Regions from separate parts of the Homo sapiens genome. Here all the other regions are reported to be linked to region 3. Evidence: microRNA targets listed by miRTarBase, many of them from high-throughput screens and not tested one by one. Region 3 holds a microRNA gene; each other region holds the end of a gene's coding sequence.
The links. Region 3 holds the annotated microRNA hsa-miR-6778-3p (UGCCUCCCUGACAUUCCACAG, at 1,715-1,735, opposite strand). A microRNA usually pairs through its seed, bases 2 to 8, with sites in the 3' UTR of a target mRNA and lowers its output. Matches are read on the target gene's strand: a 7mer-m8 pairs with bases 2 to 8, a 7mer-A1 pairs with bases 2 to 7 and ends in A, and an 8mer does both.

Region 1: miRTarBase lists PGM2L1 as a target of hsa-miR-6778-3p. Seed matches in the 3' UTR shown: 7mer-m8 at 1,214-1,220, 7mer-m8 at 1,081-1,087 and 7mer-m8 at 863-869.
Region 2: the mRNA of EID2B is a reported target of hsa-miR-6778-3p. Seed matches in the 3' UTR shown: 7mer-m8 at 1,755-1,761, 7mer-m8 at 1,621-1,627 and 7mer-m8 at 1,589-1,595.
Region 4: miRTarBase lists GMPS as a target of hsa-miR-6778-3p. The part of its 3' UTR that is shown has no 7-base or 8-base seed match.

What each region holds. Positions count from the first base shown.
Region 1 is chr11:74,334,160-74,337,290 of GRCh38, forward strand. It overlaps PGM2L1 (phosphoglucomutase 2 like 1), which reads right to left. Exons shown (of 14, transcript NM_173582.6): 14 at 1-2,595. The coding sequence ends at 2,493. The region is part of intron 2 of LOC112268078 (a long non-coding RNA gene); the gene reads left to right. Among named protein-coding and RNA genes, the nearest start is that of P4HA3, 24 kb to the left of the region's middle.
Region 2 is chr19:39,529,672-39,532,785 of GRCh38, forward strand. EID2B (EP300 interacting inhibitor of differentiation 2B) reads right to left here. Exons shown (of 1, transcript NM_152361.3): 1 at 1,316-3,114. The coding sequence ends at 2,646. Among named protein-coding and RNA genes, the nearest start is that of EID2B, 1.6 kb to the right of the region's middle.
Region 3 is chr17:18,339,100-18,342,230 of GRCh38, forward strand. It overlaps MIR6778 (microRNA 6778), which reads right to left and starts at 1,787; the gene lies at 1,715-1,787. SHMT1 (serine hydroxymethyltransferase 1) reads right to left here. Exons shown (of 12, transcript NM_004169.5): 6 at 1,633-1,714; 7 at 944-1,156.
Region 4 is chr3:155,937,273-155,940,403 of GRCh38, reverse strand. GMPS (guanine monophosphate synthase) reads right to left here. Exons shown (of 16, transcript NM_003875.3): 16 at 1-2,813. The coding sequence ends at 2,712. Among named protein-coding and RNA genes, the nearest start is that of GMPS, 68 kb to the right of the region's middle.

The DNA of each region.
Region 1 (3,131 bases), not on the chromosome of region 3:
ACCTTAAGATGACTTAAATGTTGCATTATATTAAAGCACTCAAATAAAACTGTTTTCTTCATAATAGAATGACAGTCATGACATGGCTTTAGTAACTATGAATGAGCCGTTGATTCATTTTAGCTTCATTTTTGTTTATCAGTCACTGAAACACAGAACTAAACCAAATATACCTGTTTTTCATATATACAACATTATACCACTTTGCAGAATATATGCCATTTCCTAAATTACAATCTACATTCTTAAAAGCATATAAAACAAAAGATGTTTTACACATTTTAAAAATAAAACAAAAATTCTACACATATCTTCTCCAGTGCAAAGCCTTTGAAAACAAACTCATTGAGAAAAATGGTGCTCTACATTTAGCTAGCTGTCTATTATCTACAGTCATACAGTCATATAAGATCCAACAATAAGAAAGTAAGGAAGGAACAAATTAACAATAGTGGCAATACAATAGTTGGACAATTAGGTTTGGATTATATGAGCTCAACCAAATGTTAGCTGACAGCTGCAACAAACGAAACCATGATTTAAGGAACATTCTAATCAGTTCAAACTTTATATTATTATTTTATATGAAATAAATTCTCTAATTACAGTGCTATCTCCCATAAGCAATTTGTTTAGGTCTTGTTATTGTTATCTCCTAACTATACCCCATATGTATTCTGAGAACTATGTAGGACAAGATACATTTTAAGAAGATTAAACACAGCATTTCTTTTTCTCTCTCTCTCTCTTTTTTTTTTTTTTTTTGAGATAAGGTCTCACTCTGTCATCCAGGCTTCAGTGCGGCAGTGTGATCATAGTTCTGTAACTTAAACTCCTGGCCTCAAGCAATCCTCCTGCCTCAGCCTCCCAAAGCGCTGGTATTACAGATGTGAGCCACCAAGCCCAGCCTAAACAGCATTTCTCTATTAAACCTTTTCAGAAGACTGCATGATTAGCCAAAAGTGACTTTTTTTTTTTTTGAGATGGAGTCTCCCTCTGTTGCCCAGGCTGGAGTGTAGTGGCGTGATTTCGGCTCACTGCAATCTCAGCCTCCTAGGTTCAAGCAATTCTCCTGCCTCAGCCTCCCGAGTAGCTGGGACTACAGGTGCCCACCACCACACCCGGCTAATTTTTGTATTTTTAGTAGAGACAGGGTTTCACCATATTGGCCAGGCTAGTCTCAAACTCCTGACATTGTGATCCACCTGCCTCAGCCTCCCAAAGTGCTGGGATTACAGGCGTGAGCCACTGCGCCCAGCCCAAAAGTGACTTTTTGTAAAAAATTATTTTCTACACTAAAAGAAGATAAATAATAGTCATGCAATCAGAAATTCTACAGAAGTCAGCAAGATGTTAGAATAAACTGGACCTCTGTTTTAAAACATGTAGTTTTAGTATTTCATAATACTTAAAATTTGGATGTTTTATTCTTAGTAAAATTAACATTACTTCATAAAATAAAAGAATAAATCTACTTACAAAAATGTAATTCAAAAGTTAGACTGTCAAATAAATTCAGAGCTCCTTTCTCAGTTCAGATTTTTTTCTGTAATAAAAGGTTTGATAAATGACACAATTCTAATATGAAGATCCTTAACTACATTAAGCTTGCTTTTATTAAGATCTTTATTTATATTCCTAAGATTTTAAAATCAGCAAACTCACTTGATATAGAGGAAGCACCTACAGATTTTGGAAGATTTTCCTTAGCTATCTGCAAATTGACTGATTAAATTATGGTAAATGCAGGAACACTGTTTTTTCTGTTCACACCAGACCCTGAGAAGGCACTGAGAAATTTGATAAGAACAAAGCCAATAGGAGTGTTGCCACTATTGTTTTATGTTCAGTAAACATCAGAATTTTAAATACATACAGTAAATTTATACTGCACCAAGGGCACCTGAAACAGACATGCCAAAACCACACACTGTAACATCTGTTCTAAACTACAGAAATGCTAAATATCCTATTTCAAATACTCTAATTTGTAAATTAATACCTGTGATGTCACAATGACACTTTTTCATAACAATCAAGGAAAGTACCATTTTCTTGCCAATTTTATGGACTAATTTCCTTAACTAACCCTACAATTATATAACATTTACCTGTCTTTTTTTTTTTCTTTTACCATGCTATACACAATTACGAGATACAGAACTAGGCTTAATCACACTATAATAAGAAAACTCACTTTTGAATTGTGATGTTTCTGTTAACGGAAGGACAATACGTTACTATAATACTTTTAGTGTAATAACTTTTGTTTGAATTATGAAAAAATTTGAATCATTTCCCTCTAGACCATTTCATTTCAAACTTATACTTTGTTTAGTCTAGCCAGTTGACCAAAAAGAAAGAAAATAAAAGGAAAAAGATACTCGGCCAGATGAGATAGAGAGAGAATGCTAACACAAGGTTCAATGTATGCAGTTCTCGGTTGCTCTGTTCCATATGCCCACACAGTGTCATGACATATTGGTGTACCCCTAAACAGAACGCCAGATCAGTCCATTCTTACTAGGCTGAAGAAAATTCTCTATCAGAGCATCAATGAGTTTCTTCAGTTCTTCCTCCAGTAAAGCAGTGTCACTGAGGAAAAGATGAAGAGTTTTGGAATTATTTATTTTCATAGGCTTAAAATTTATTTAAATTAGTGTGATTTTTTAAGAGGTCCTGATGGAGTCATTAAACAATTGGTAAACAAAAGAGAAATTCACTTGGTTAAAACAAAACAAGACCAAAAAAAAAAATTACACACAAAGAAAACACTGCTATCACAAACTGAAGGTGAACTGCATTAATAGGAGTTCCTTGGCACATGATAAACAGAGGAGTGATGGTGTATCTAAAGAATTCTCCTGGGTCAGGAGAATGAGGTTCTAATGGCTTTGAACACAAATACCAGGTGTTAGGAGAAAATGGCTTCCTGAAATACTTTGAAAAATATTCAGTACAGATGTTATGGAATGATATATCTTTCAGGTAGCAGAAGGAGGTGTGACTAAAATAACGTGATGTTTAAAAAAATAAATGTGCACTTAAAAGAAGGCCCTTGAAAGTCATCACTGAGGTGCTGCCGTTGCCCAGAACATTTCGAGGCAAGCCTCTTTTAAACTGCCTTTACA
Region 2 (3,114 bases), not on the chromosome of region 3:
CAAGCCAATAAAAAATAAGAATATGGACAGATAGTTCGCTGAGAAATGAAAACAAATGGCTCTTAAGCATTTGAAAACATGCGTCCTCACTCGTAATTAGAGAAATTCAAATTAAAACCATAGTGAGAAACCATCTTTTACTGTCAGATGCTTCCAAAGCTGTCAGATTAGCCAGGCCGTGGCGAGAGGCACAACTATCCCTGGCTGAATGGAAGGTAAACTGGTTGAGCCCCAAGGACAGCACTCTGGTGACACATTAAAAATACCAAGGTGGGGCCGGGTGCGGTGGCTCACGCCTGTAATCTCAGCACTTTGGGAGGCTGAGGCAGGTGGATCACGAGGTCAGGAGTTCGAGACTAGCCTGGCCAACATGGTGAAACCCTTTCTCTAAAAAAATACAAAAATTAGCTGGGCACAGTGGTGCACCTGTAGTCCCAGCTACTCGGAGGCTGAGGCAGAATAGCTTGAACCCGGGAAGTGGAGGTTGCAGTCAGCTGAGATGGTGCCACTGCACTCCAGTTCAGGCGACAGAGTGAGACTCCGTCTCAGAAAAAAAACAAAAACAAACAAAAAATAAGGTGGCTGGGTGCGGTGGCTCAAACCTATAATCCCAACACTTTGGGAGGCTGAGGCAGGCAGATCTTGAGGTCAGGAGATCGAGACCATCCTGGCTAACCGGTGAAACCCTTTCTCTACTAAAAATACAAAAAATTAGCCGGGCATGGTGGCACGTGCCTGTAGTTCCAGGTACTCCAGAGGCTGAGGCAGGAGAATCACTTGAACCCAGGAGGCAGAGATTGCAGTGAGCTGAGATTGCACCACTGCACTCCAGCCTGGGTGACAGAGCAAGACTCTGTTTCAAAAAGAAAAAAAAAAAACAGTGTATTATGGAAAACGAGTAAACACGTATAAATGCATAGAAAATGTTAAAACATTTTGCAAACAACCCAGATGTCCAAAAGGTGTCTAGTTCATTATACTAAGATAAGGCTTTACATTGTAGTTGTAAAAAAAAAAACGCCCAGTGGAGTAGCTCACGCCCAGCACTTAGTACTTTGGGAAGCCGAGGCAGGAGGAACAGTTGAAGCCAAGAGTTGGAGACAAGCCTAGAAAACATAATGAGGCCCCATCTCTGTTTCTATATATAAAAAAAGAAAAAAAAAACCCTGATATATAAATCTCTCCATATATAACTGAAAAAACCCAAGATGCTGATAGAGGTATACAATATGTTACCTTGATTTTATATTTTTAAAAATTTATACCTCGTGATGCAAGTTAACTACCTTGATATTAAAAGGGAAAATGCACAATATTTAGATTGATGTTTATTTGCATATGCATTAGAAAACCTGAAAGGCGTACAGTGAAAAAGCAAAAAACAAGCAAAACCAAGAAAACAACAACAAAACTCCAAGCCACAAGCAATGGCACCTGCATGGAATAGTTCTGAGTTTGGCAAAGGACAGCAACAAGAGAGATTTCTCACAGCATCTTTTGATACTTTTTTTCTTTTTTTTGAGACGGAGTCCCACTCTGTTGACCAGGCTGGAGTGCAGTGGCGTGATCTCGGCTTACTGCAACCTCCGCCTCCCAGGTTCAAGTGATTCTCCTGCCTCAGCCTCCCGAGTAGCTGGGACTACAAGCGCGTGCCACCACACCCAGTTAATTTTTTATTTTTCGTAGAGATGGGGTTTCACCATGTTGGCCAGGGTGGTCTTGAATTCCTGACCTCAGGTGATCCACCCGCCGTGGCCTCCCAAAGTGCTGGGATTACAGGCGTAAGCCAGTGCGCCCGGCCGATACTTTTTTTTGTTGAGTCTTGTGAATAGAATACATATTCTAGAATAAAATAAAAAGCTTAAAATTAACAAAAAACAAGTTTATTCCACACCTACCCAATTTCACATAGACTTGAAAACACTGATCATATAATACGTGGTTTTTTCTATTGAATATTTACTGTTCATCTAAAGTACCTCAGAAAACACAAATATGAATCTTACACTAGGATTTGTTGACATGACCACAAATTGTGAAATTTCAAAGTCCTCTCAATAGCCTTCCAATCCTAGTAACTCAGGTACACCTGGATTCCTGACAACTCTATTTCTTTGTTTTCTTTCATCACTTAGGTTCATTTCTATGGGTTCTGTTATTGGCATTTTTTTTTTCTCATATCTTTGCAAAACCATCCTTTATGGTGAAAGTCATGAAGGATTCTTCACAAATGCAGGAAAATGCATTGCTAACAAAGTGCTAAGTCAGAAGTGTCTTGGGACCTGTTTGAAAACAAGATTCGGCCGGGCGCGGTGGCTCACGCCTGTAAAGTAATCCCAGCACTTTGGGAGGCCGAAGCGGGAGGATCGCTCGGGTCCAAGCGTTCGGGACCAGCCTAGGGATGCGAGACTCCCTTCTCTATTTAAATAATACTAAAAAAGAAGAAAGAAAACAAGATTCAACAGTCTTGTCTGTTTCCATTTCGGAGTGTGCTTCCTCCTTCAATTGCACATTGCCGTATTCCCTTCCAGTTTGCATTCCCCCTAATGACTGAGTTAACTAAACTGGCACAGCCTGCCTGTTCTTTTGATCCCAAAAGGGTCACTTGGCTATTCCTTGCCACCAATGTCATCATCACAGCCGACTCAGTCGGCCAGAGGACTGAGGGCCTCGGAGGCAGTCAGCGCTACCGTAAACGCGACAGCAGCGAAGTCCATCTGCGGGGGATCCGCGTCAAAGGCTGCTTCCCTCGCCTTGCAGCCTTCCACAAACAGCCTGCGGCGTTCCTCGAAATCCCGTAGTAATCTGACCGGAATCATGGAGCTACCATCCAGATACTCGCGGAACAACAGCTGCCGGTTAATTTCTAAGAAAGCGAGCTGCTGATGGGGGTCTGGCGCGGAGGCCAGGCCCGGGACGCTGCTGGGGATGGGCCCGGGCACAGGGCCCGGCATCCGCGCCATGGACCGCGCAGCTTCGGCCACTGGGCCTTCCCGAGCCTCCTGCACCCGAACCCCGCCGCCGACTGCCCCCCGCAGTACGTCGCTGACGCCACTCGCGGTGCCCACCTGTGGGACACTGCTATCTCCGGGGAGCTCGGACATCTCCAACAGC
Region 3 (3,131 bases):
GGCTGGTGTCTCTGCTGATGCAAAGTTGGCGCATCAGGTCTCACCACAGGCTAAATGATGACCTGACCACTAACAGGCTTTCCCAGGTATGGGAATTCGAAAATAAGGGGAGTGCCTAGGGGTAGGTTATGAGGTAATGGAAAGAAAAACCTTCACTAAAATGATATTAATGTTTATACATCCATGTCTTCTAGTTTGACTACTATGAGTCTTTCTCTTTGAGAAACATGATGGATCACTGTAAGTTCACCAGAATAATGCAGCCTTGTGAGGCCTCCCAGTGGCCCCCAGCCAGCCATGCACCCTCCTTTCATTCAAACACCTGCCTCTCGAGTTCAGCAACCGGCGCCATCCTAACACATAGTGGTTGCTGATCCCCCTCCTATGTTCCTAGGACCTGGATGCACAAAAGTGAAGCAGGAGCTGTGGCTGACAGTCTCCTTCTGGGGATTCCTTTCTTTCTTTCTTTTTTTTTTTTTGAGACGGCATCTCGCTCTGTCGCCCAGGCTGGAGTACAGTGGCACAATCTCAGCTCACTGCAAGCTCCACCTCCCAGGCTCACGCCATTCTCCTGCCTTCGCCTCCTGAGTAGCTGGGACTACAGGTGCCCACCACCACACTCGGCTAATTTTTCGTGTTTTTAGTAGAGACGGGGTTTCACCGTGTTAGCCAGGATGGTCTTGATCTCCTGACCTCGTGATCTGCCCGCTTCGGCCTCCCAAAGTGCTGGGATTACAGGCGCGAGCCACCTCACCTGGCCGGGAATCCTTTCTGTAAAGCCTGTCACTGCTCCTTCCTAAGCAGCTCTTTAAGGGACTGGGATCTTAATATTTTCCAAGGATCCCAGGTCAGAGTTTTTCCCAGCTCCCTCAACTGAATCTGAACCCCCACAGGAGAAATGTAAACCATGGTACCCATCTGTACCCAACATTCGGGAGCTCACCTTTCCTGTAGAAGATCATGCCAGCTCGGCAGCCTCGCAGGGTCTTGTGAGTGGTGGTGGTCACCACATGGCAGTGTTCAAATGGGGAGGGCACCACGCCAGCCGCCACCAGCCCGCTGATGTGAGCCATGTCCGCCATGAGATACGCCCCGTTCTCATCTGCAATCTTCCGTAGCCGGGCATATTCCAGGTTTCGGGAGTAGCAGCTGGTTCCTGAGACAGGAAAGGTGACACAGCTGCATCAGAGATGTCCACCGGCCAGCTGAGTTGGCTTCACAGTGGCCTCTAGATGTGCAGATCTGAAAGCCCAGAGATTTCTTCCCTTAAAGTCTCAGAGCAAAAATGGAGAATGCCCTCAAAAAGCACCTCTGTGCTAAAGGCAACCACTCTAACTCTTCAACGTCTTGGTGGTTGAGATGGCCCCAACTACTATTGCCAGCGCAGTCAGGGCCTGACATTTCTAGATGCTTCTCTGAGAACAGTCTCACATCTTAATCTACATAGCACAAAAAGCAGCAAACACACATCTGTATCCTGAAAGAAACTAATATATGTAGACCCCAGAAACTCAGTTATCCAGGGCAGAAACTAGCAGTGGGCTCAACAGGGTGCGAACATCTTTCCATCCTCATTCTGTAAGAGGCACCAGGCTACTGGTGAACAAGGTGACTTTCCGCCCCGCGCATCACCTGCGATGATCAGCTTCGGGTGGAAGAGGCGTGCGTTCTCCTCCAGCTGGTCATAGTTGATGTAGCCAGTATCTGGGTTCACCTGTGGAATGTCAGGGAGGCAGGTTCAGGCTGCTTCCTCCAACCACACCTGCCTCCTGTCCTCCCACTTGAACTGGCTCCACCCACCATGACAAGAGGAATGATGTCCTAGATGAGGACTTGAGGGTGAGACAGGATGGATACTGGTGTGTTCAGCCTGCTCAACCAAGTATGGCTCACAGACCCAGGAGTCCCTGAGGAGTCCCAGGGTTGTAGTGAGCCCTGCTGCTGGGGCACTACCTGCTGAGAAGGAACCAAAAAGCACCTGCAGAATGAAACAAATGTGACGGGACCACACAATGGAAACCAAAATGGTTACCTTCAGGAACAAGACCAAAATGCCTGCTAATACTACTTCTATTCCAAGTATAATGAGGCAAGAAAAAGAAACAAAAGGCATAACGATTAGGAAAGAAGAAATTTAAAAACTGACATTACACACAGACAACACAATATACCTAGAAAATCAAGATGCTAGGGGCCAACTGTTAGAATAAGCAAATTTAGCAAGGTCACTGGATACAACATTGAAAAACAAGAAGTAGGGGCTGGGCGCGGTGGCTCACACCTGTAATCCCAGCACTTTGGGAGGCTGAGACGGGCAGATCATGAGGTCAGGAGATCGAGACCATCCTGGCTAACACGGTGAAACCCCGTCTCTACTAAAAATGCAAAAAATTAGCCAGATATGGTGGCGGGCGCCTGTAATCCCAGCTACTTGGGAGGCTGAGGCAGGAGAATGGCGTGAACCCGGGAGGTGGAGCTTGCAGTGAGCCGAGATTGTGCCACTGCACTCCAGCACTCCAGCCTGGGCAACAGAGCGAGACTCCATCTGAAAAAAAAAAAAAAAAAAAGCCAAAAAGTATATAAAAGCAAGAAAGATAGAAAATGAAATGTAAATAACAAAAACCATAAAAGGAAAATCATACCAAACCTTTACACAAAACATCATTGCGTTGTGTATTTTGTGTCACAAAATGCTTGACAAATTATAGTAATTAAGGCAGCACGCATTCATGGAAGGGCAGAGCATCTGGCTTAACCAGAAGCAGAACCACACACAACACAGGTCATTGGATCCATGCCAGTGGTGACGCTGCAGTGCAGTGGGGAGAGGATGACCTTTTCAATCAATGGCACTAGGTCAACTGGGCATCCATTTGGACAAAAATGTTATCTGGATGCCCGCCTCACCCACACAAATCAATTCCATATTCAGCAATCCCACTTGTGAATCTATATCTTAAGAACTTGAAATCAGTATGTCAAAGAGACATGTGCACTCCCATGTTCACTGCAGCACTATTCACAATAGCCAAGTTATGGAATAAAGCCATGTCCATCAACAGATGAATGGACAAAGGAAATGTGACACATATATATATAAACAATGTAATAATAATCAGTCTGAAAAAAGA
Region 4 (3,131 bases), not on the chromosome of region 3:
GGGATTTAAAAAAGGTTAGAAAACAGTGTAACCCTATCTCCTGGATATATCTACAGACTTGTATTTAGGAATTATGCCAGGCTGTTATTTCTAACAGAGCTGATGATCATAGATGTGGCCTTTAAGGCAGGACTGGGTATTTGGTTCTTAAAAATGATTCTGTGCCTGCCAATCTTAGGAATAAATAATGCTTTCAATGATCTACATTCTCTGTCTACCTAAAAAGTACAAAGAAAAAGAATATATTTAATCAAAGAGAGATGTGTCCCAGGTAGATGGTAAGCAACGGGAATAAAGTCATGATATGCCCAGAATAACCAATGATGAATGTTATTAGCCAGGTAGCCACCATTCTAGTCTTAGTAAAATAAGCATCCCATAAATGTTTATATAATTTTAGGTGTCAGAATACACATCAGGACAATCTGGACTAAGGAAACCTGAAATTTAATTCTGAAATTAATTAAGTAACCATGCCTAAGGTGAGCTTGTTTTCTTAACTGTAAAATGGAAGTGCAACCTTTAACTTTCCTCAGTGGCTCAGATGAAATACTGTGAAGGTACAGAGTAATGCTATATGGCACAAAGCAAAAAGTGCTGTGCAAAAGAAGACAGTGTGCTAAATATTAGGAAATTTCTGAGTTCCAGAAAATTTGGATTTTTAAGAAACTATGTCATGTCAAGATGTGCTTTGGAGTAACAATTTTCCCAATATTATATTAAGTATATACTAAGTATATATTAGAAGGGATTATATAAAAGGTGTTCAAAAAACAAATATCAGGAAAACACTAATTTAAGCAGAATTTAACAATTGTTTTTAACTTCAGAATTTCTCAGAGCTTTGAATATTATATACCATGAATCTCCAGGAAAGGACAAGTGAGCTTATGTTCCCCAAACTTATATGACCACCTAATCCTTTTTACATGGACCTTCTCAGTGGAGCAGTGTTCCATAGAACACACATTCTTACTCTCTATTTTTCCAAAATTCCTACTGTTTGCTTCAATACAAAATCATAAGACACTGTGGCTAGAAATTTTTTTTCATATAAACATAAACGTGTACTGACACATGTTGGTAAGCATTTTATAGGTTGTCTATTCTAGCTTTCAAATAACATGACTCTAAATCTGTAAAGACCAGATCACTAACATAGCCTCTTTCCAGAAGGCCATAATGAGTACCTCCTCATCAGATAGAGAATGTACCCTTTAAGTTTTGTAGGAGTCAAGTACCCCTTTGTCTTGGGGACAGATTTCTGTTAAGACAGACAGAAACTCTTCCCTTGCTGGTCCAGCAGCAGTTTTCTTGTTCCCTGGACCAGCCAGAATAAAAAGATGACTTCTGCCACGCATCATTTTGTTGTTTGTCTAACACTGAATCCCAAATAAAATTTCATTCCTGATTAATAGATCTGACCTTTTAAACTAGACAAGCAGCAGCAACCTGAGATGGAATTGTTAAGAGAAAAATATGGTAACATTCTTAGCTAAAATACTGAGAGAAACGGAGAGTTTAAGTCTACTACTGTCTACAGTACTTATGTGAATGTTATAAAAGATCTGTTAGAAACTGGTGGTGATGGCAACAAGTCCTACACCAGTTCTTAAATCCTCTCTTATAGCTAGTAGAAAGGATTACAAAGTTTGGCAAACATCTTGCATGTATCAAGACTGTTCACAGGTGTCTGAGCAATGAATAATATGTCTATAGATTAGATTTAAAAGCTCATTTTACAACTGTTTACTAGATGATATAAACATTTTTCCTCTCCCTTTTGTAAGCTGTAGGTATGCATCATAGCTTCTGTGATCTCAGAACCGTTTCTCTGACCAGCAAAAGAAGAGATGAAAATGCTCCTCTTGACCTCTATCTGCACTACACCAGAAACGTCATTGAGCCAGTTTCTTCTAAGGAGATAACAGAAACTTTCTATGCAAGGCTGTGGGGGGCTGGTAATATAAGGCTAGGAGGATAAAGCTCCTTACTAATAAACAAGCTGACATTGAATAACATGGCATCTATGTGGAACATGGTTTGAAAACATTTTAAGACCATTCATAGACATCTGAGACCACTCATAGTTTCTTCCTCCCAAGGCTGTGAAATAAAATTCAAAAGTACATCAACAAATTCCTGGTGCTTTTCCATCTTATGGTAGCTTACATTTTATACCCTCAGTGTCCTTCAAAAGTGGCTGGAATAGCCCACCTATACCTTTATCTGATATGTTCATCTCTTTTTCACCCTTTGGAGAAATAAGATTACTTATAAGAAAACTGATTCTCCAAAAAGTATATATAAGTAGTAAGTAACACTGGTAAATAATGGGCGTTTCTAACAGTTCTTAGAAACTGGTAAGGAGACAGAAGCCCATAATTACCCCCAAATTCACCCACCTTCATACATATTCACAGAGACATCAACAGTGAATTTATACATAAAGAATAAGTGAGGCAAAGGCAAAAGCAGTATCAATCTGTCTGAGTGTAGGCAATGGTGCTTTGATTATTTACCCGTACAAACTCTTCAGTCCCTTTTGGTTATCCCCAACTCAGCTCTTAAGCCGTAGATTTTTGCTGTGGAGAACTCAGATGTGATGTAGCTGCTCCAGTAACTCTTTTCACAGTACTGCATGTCAATAATGGGAATGATTTCTAATCAATTTAAACTGCACACGGTACTTTAATAGAACAAGAAGTTTATTACTCCCACTCAGTAGTTCCTGGGGGCTTTGATGTTAAGTCATACATAATTCGAGAAATACCAGGAATCTTCTTAATCTCAGTGACCATCTTTAATACCACCTATTAAAAAAAATTATAGAGAAAAGTCAGCATCCACTGCATGTCCAGCAGTCCTAGAGGGCTTACATTTGTAATTTGAAATTAAAATTTGACTATTTTCACTATTGTCCTCCATGTATATGGGATGGTTTCTGATTAATCTTATATAATGAACCTATTCCCCTCTGCAGGGATAGGTGTAAGTTATTAAGGTTTAAAATATTAGTGACTTAAACTCAGTACTACTCAAAGTGTGATCCACAAACAGGTGCTAGTCTGCAAGTTGTGTTTGTGACTGAGCCACAAGTGCTTAAGAACATATAGCGATTTGACATTGCT